Linked DNA regions of Homo sapiens: region 1 is linked to region 2. The links come from fine-mapping of genetic effects on gene expression. A gene starts in region 2. The other region holds a variant in brackets. All regions are shown on one strand. Distances are from middle to middle. Region 1 overlaps CIAPIN1 (cytokine induced apoptosis inhibitor 1). Region 2 holds the start of DOK4 (docking protein 4).

Region 1 (3,023 bases), 46 kb after region 2:
GTGTTGTTTCTTTTTAAAAACATTGAATCTGTGGTTGGGTTATTTCTGTCAATTTATTTGCCTTCCTTGCCAAGTCACACTTTGCCTAATTGATGTCCTGTGTGTTTTCCATTCCGTTCATGCTGAATTATCTTAGGTCAAAGAGGAAATCATCTTTCTGCCTCCAACCTTCTTACTTGCCTCTAATCCCCTTTCTTGACTCTTCCAAGTCAGGATTCTCACCAAGGAAGCTATCTGCCTTCTTTGGGAATGTTGGGCTTATGAAGACTTGAGATAATGGGGTTCATGTATTCAGACTCTTTAGCATATACAGTAGAGTTTCTAATGTTGTCAGCATTCCCTAGTGGGCGGTTACAAGTTAGGTTGGGATTCTAATCATATTTTATGATATCTCACAGATTAAATTGCACTTTGTCTCTGCCCAGTCTTGATTCCCTTTTGGCCAGCAGTTTTTAGGTCTGTCAGTACTGCACTGCAAGAATGGCAGATTTTGGGATCTCTGCTGGCCAGTTTGTGGCAGTGGTCTGGGATAAGTCATCCCCAGTGGAGGCTCTGAAAGGTCTGGTGGATAAGCTTCAAGCGTTAACCGGCAATGAGGGCCGCGTGTCTGTGGAAAACATCAAGCAGCTGTTGCAATGTAAGTACCCACCCACGTTGTCTTTATGAGGCTGGAGGGGTTTCCATGGGAGTGTTGCATTTCTGTGGTTCCTTGATATCTGAGTTTTCATTTAGGGTGGCATGTGATAGTGGTGGCTGGTCACCCTGTTGTTTTTCAGTTGAGATATATCGGAGGAACCACCCCCAATAATTCAACGTAGGTTCTTTTCTATTTTCCCTAAGTGTCGGCTGGTCTGAGAAATAAAGGGAAAGAGTACAAAAGAGAGAAATTTTAAAGCTGGGTGTCCGGGGGAGACATCACATGTCGGCGGGTTCCGTGATGCCCCTCAAGCCGCAAAACCAGCAAGTTTTTATTAGTGATTTTCAAAGGGGAGGGAGTGTACGAATAGGGTGTGGGTCACAGAGATCACATGCTTCACAAGGCAATAAAATAAGGCAAACGGGGGCAGAGCGAGATCACAGGACTGGGGCGAAATTAAAATTGCTAATAAAGTTTCGGGCACGCATTGTCATAGATAACATCTTATCAGGAGACAGGGTTTGAAAGCAGACAGCTGGTCTGACTAAAATTTACTGGGTGGGAATTTCCTCGTCCTAACAGGCCTGGGAGTGCTACGGGAGACCAGGGCTTATTTCATCCCTTATCT[G/A]CAACCATATAAGACAGACATCCCAGAGTGGCCATTTTAGAGACCTCCCCCTAGGAACGCATTCTCTTTCTCAGGGCTGTTCCTTGCTGAGAAAAAGAATTCAGTGATATTTCTCCTATTCACTTTTGTAAGAAGAGAAATATGGCTCTGTTCCGCCTGGCTCTCAGGCAGTCAGACCTGATGGTTATCTCCCTTGTTCCCTGAACATCGCTGTTATCCTGTTCTTTTTTCAAGGTGCGCAGATGTCGTATTGTTTAAATGCACATGCTTTATGAACAATTTGTGCAGTTAACGCAATCATCACAGGGTTCTGAGGCAACATACATCCTCAGCTTATGAAGATGACGGGATTAAGAGATTAAAGTAAAGACAGGCATAGGAAATCACAAGAGTATTGACTGAGGAAGTGATAAATGTCCATGAAATCTTCACAATTTATATTCAGAGATTGCAGTAAAGACAGGCGTAAGAAATTATAAAAGTATTAATTTGGGGAACTAATAAATGTTCATGAAATCTTCACAATTTGTGTACTTTTGCCATGGCTTCAGCCGGTCCCTCCGTTTGGGGTCCCTCACTTCCTGCAGCAGAGCTTAGGAGTGTAGTTGATGATTTCCATAAGTATGTTCTTTCTTGGTAGCTATTCCATGTTTTTTTAAAACACTTACTATTCATCCAGCTTCTTGGATGGATATCGAGTGGTGTCCATTCTCTCAGGGTGAGGTCTGTAGCTTTTGTTGGGGGTTGGAAGGGACCAGGAGATTATCCCAGGCTCAGGAGATTGCTAATTAGAGTCCTCTTCTTTTCAGCTGCCCACAAAGAATCCAGCTTTGACATTATTTTGTCAGGTTTAGTCCCAGGAAGCACCACTCTGCACAGTGCTGAGATTTTGGCTGAAATCGCCCGGATCCTTCGGCCTGGTGGATGTCTTTTTCTGAAGGAGCCAGTAGAGACAGCTGTAGGTAAGGAGATCTTCACTTGGAAAACATGTTTGACAGGGTTGAGTCTTAGAGTATGTGTGCTGCATCTCCGTGAGCAGGAGGTATCATTGGGAGATCAGTATTCCTGTAGCAAAACCTTTTCCTTGGGGATAAATTATTGTTAAAATCTGAAGCAACATATCTGGAGAAATTGTAATCTTTGGCTGACTCATTATGTAATAAAATAGAAGGAAACTGCCATCTAAAAATGGGTCCTTTTGCAGGTGAATAAACTTTGATATGTTCATAATATGGAAAGTGATGCAGCAATAAAAATGAACTAGCTAACTATATGTACATCAGCTTGGATGGATATCAAGGGAAGTAGCTGAGTGAAAAAAGCCAATCTCAAAAGGCTCTGTACTGTACAAATCCATTCATATGCTCGAAATAACAAAATTGTGGCGGTGGAGATCAGAGTTTGCCAGAGGTTAGAAGTGGGAGGAAAGGGTTGGTGGAGCTATAAAGGGGTAGTATGAGGGTTCCTGTGGTGATAGAACAATTCTGTGTTCTGAATGTCGTGGTGGTTACACAAATCTACACATATAATAAAATTACATAGAACTATATAGCCCCCTTCTGCCAAACGAGTACATATAAAAGAAATGAAATCTGAAAAAGTTATGTGGACCATCAATATCAATTTCCCGGTCTTCATATCATGCTATAATTGGGTAAGATGTTAACTGTGGGGAGGGACGAAGTGAAGACCTCCTTAATATACAGAACTTTTTTTTGTTTTTTCCAACTTCCTGTGAATCTATAGTTATTTCAAAAT
Region 2 (2,714 bases):
GACCATCAGGGAAATTTTCAGACATCCAGAGGCAGCCTCCTTTTAAGCTCCCTGGGCAAGGCTGAGGCCCAGGCGTCTCCGGGGCAGGGGCATGCATTCCATGGGTGGGTGTTGGGATCCTTGGTCCCTCACTGCTTTAGGCCTATTCCTCTGAGACACCTGGACAGTAGCTGGATGTGGAGGTATTTTCATTTCTCAGGATTTTGGCTGTTCAGGTGGCCTATTGTTTTGTTTTGTATATATGGTCTAAAGCAGTGGTTCTCACACATTCGTGTGCATCAGAATCACCTGGCCTGTTAAAACACACATTTCTGCTGGAAACCCCCAAAAATTCTGATTTCATAGGTCTGAGTAGGGCAGGGAATTTGCATTTCTAACAAGTTTCAAGGTGATGGGAAGCTTCTGGTCCAGGGACTACACTTTGAGAAGCCCTGGTGTAAAAAGGTACAGACGTGAAAACCAGAGGGGGGACAGCTCCTCCCCAGAGGAGGCACTGGGCAACTTCTCTTGTCCCTGCCTGGCACAGCTGAGGCCTGTGACTGGGGATTCCGACAGATCAGTGAGTCAACCACTGCACAGGCCCGAAGGGCAGAGGTGAGGGGGTTGGGGGCTGGGTGGGGGCAGCAATGAAGGGGAATGAAGTTTGAGCTTGAGGGCAAAGTCTCAGGGGGACCTAGAATGGGAGAACTGGATGTTTTGAGGGTGGAGAGGAGACCAGGGAAGACAGAGGTGCTGGTGCGGCTACTTGAGGAGGGGTAGCAGAGGAGGTCACTGTGGGGCTGGGAGAGCTGGGCTGTGAGGGCCCAGAGAGTCATGATGGGGTTAGGGGAGCAATGGGTGTGTATGTGATTCCTGAAGAAGTGAAGGAATTGAGATATGGGGGCTGGGAGCTGATGTGGCGTATGGGTGTGTATGTGATTCCTGAAGAAGTGAAGGGGTTGAGATGTGGGGGCTGGGAGCTGATGTGGAGTTCAGCTTTCAGGGGCTGAGAGGCCATGTGGGCTTTGGGGCCCAGGGAGGGGCGGTGGGAATGAGCTGGGGGTACCGGGGGCGACCTGAAGCGGGTGCGGGGGTGCCAGGGCGCCAGGGCAGAATCGCGCGTCCCGCGGCTCGGAGGAATACGGCGGGGGCCGGCCGCCAGGGCGGGGCAGGGGGCGGGGCGCAGCGGCGAGACCTGGCGGAGGGGGGAGCGGAGCGGAGTCCCAGCCGGAGCCCCAGCCGGAGCCCGATCCCTAGCCCTGCGGCCGCGCCTCCCTCGCCGTCCCCGCCTGGAGCCCGGCGCCGCCGCCGCCCTGCCGCCCCCGCCAGCCGCGCCGTGACGCGGGCATGAGCCTGCTCCGCGGCGCCGCTGAGCAGGCGCTCCTGGCCCGGGCCTCGGCGCCCAGGTAAATTGGGGGGCGTGAGGCAGGGAGGGGGACATAGGCCGCCCAGAGCCTGCAAGAGTCTCGGCGACTCCCACCCCTGAGGACCCTCAGTCACTTCCTGAACCTGAGGACGCTCCGTCCCATGGGACCTTCCTACTCTCGGGTGGGGAGCTTAGAGACCCGCCCCCCAAAAGCCAGTGCCTGGGCCCTGAAACTCCCTGCGCTCTCTCCACCCGCAGCTTTCCTCTCCGGGGGAGCCCAGGTCGCGAGCTGACCTCACCCGCACCCACACAAACCTCATCCGAGCAACCCAGGCCCTGCGCTCCCGGGCCTGCCCCCCCGGAAGGGGCATAACCCAGCCCCTGGCAGCTCCCAACCTTCTCTCTGCCTTCCTGCTCCTCCCCGGGGCCTCCTGTTCGCTCACCTCCTCCAAATTCCAAGAGATGATTTTCTGTACCCCAGCTGGCCCCCACTGCCGACCCCCTCCTGCCTATGGGGTTTCTCCCCACAGCCCAAACTCATGGCCAGCTGCCTCCTGTCCTTGAACCTTTCTCCATTGGCCCCCAAGGTCCTGTCCACCTTCTCCCCCAGGGCCCGCAAGGCCCTAGATCCAGTTACATGCTTTCTATTACTGAAAAGGGGCATGAGCCGAGGCTGGGCACCTGGGTGATGTGGCAGAGCAGGGGCTCTGTGCAGCCTGCCTGCCCCAAGCCATGGGGACACGTCAGTTGCTGGGGCGCTTCCGCTTGGATGGAGGGTGTGGGTTGGAGGGGTCTGATGGCCAGGGCAGCGAGGGGCCTGGCAGTATCTCTAGGAGACTCCACTTGGGCAGTGTGAGGTGGGCTTGCTTAGGGCAGGTTCTTTCCTGGACCCTTTCAGAGGGATGTGGCGCTGGTACAGGCTCTTCCTGCCCCCACCCCCAACTCTGATCCCAGGAGCTGTGCCTCCTCTCCCCAGTTGCTTGCCTTGCTGTGCTGGTACTGGTTACTCCCAGCACTTCCCTCCTGGGCAGGGCAGCAGGGCTGGGCATGACCTCACCCCACAACCCTGGCCAAGGTGGGGCCGCCCAACTAGGCCTGGCCTCGATGTCAGCAGCATGCTCTTCCCTGAGGCAGCTCTGAACCAAACTGCGGGTCTTGGGCACAGCTGGTTCTCCAGTAACAACAGCCTGCTGGCCATGCCAGTCAGCGCTGAGACCCAGGAGCTGGGAGCCCACTGTGGCTCACGCACCTCTGGAAGCTGAGCCAGGTCCAGCCAGATGGAGGCTGGTGGTGGTGGAAGAAAGGATGGGGAGGAGGACAAGTCCTGGAGAGAATTACGTGTTCAGCCCCCAAATATTGAGCATCTCCT

Evidence for each region. PIP is the estimated chance that this variant, and not a neighbour inherited with it, causes the effect. A credible set is the group of variants that fine-mapping cannot tell apart.
Region 1: its variant is the best candidate, but not a certain one, in a credible set for the expression of DOK4 in thyroid (GTEx, PIP 0.67).

What each region holds. Positions count from the first base shown.
Region 1 is chr16:57,438,386-57,441,408 of GRCh38, reverse strand. CIAPIN1 (cytokine induced apoptosis inhibitor 1) reads left to right here. Exons shown (of 9, transcript NM_020313.4): 2 at 426-637; 3 at 2,075-2,227. The coding sequence starts at 481. Among named protein-coding and RNA genes, the nearest start is that of CIAPIN1, 7.5 kb to the left of the region's middle. The variant G/A (reference allele first, on the strand shown) is at 1,266.
Region 2 is chr16:57,484,976-57,487,689 of GRCh38, reverse strand. It overlaps DOK4 (docking protein 4), which reads left to right and starts at 1,197. Exons shown (of 9, transcript NM_018110.5): 1 at 1,197-1,385. RefSeq lists a silencer at 1,017-1,316 and an enhancer at 1,148-1,944.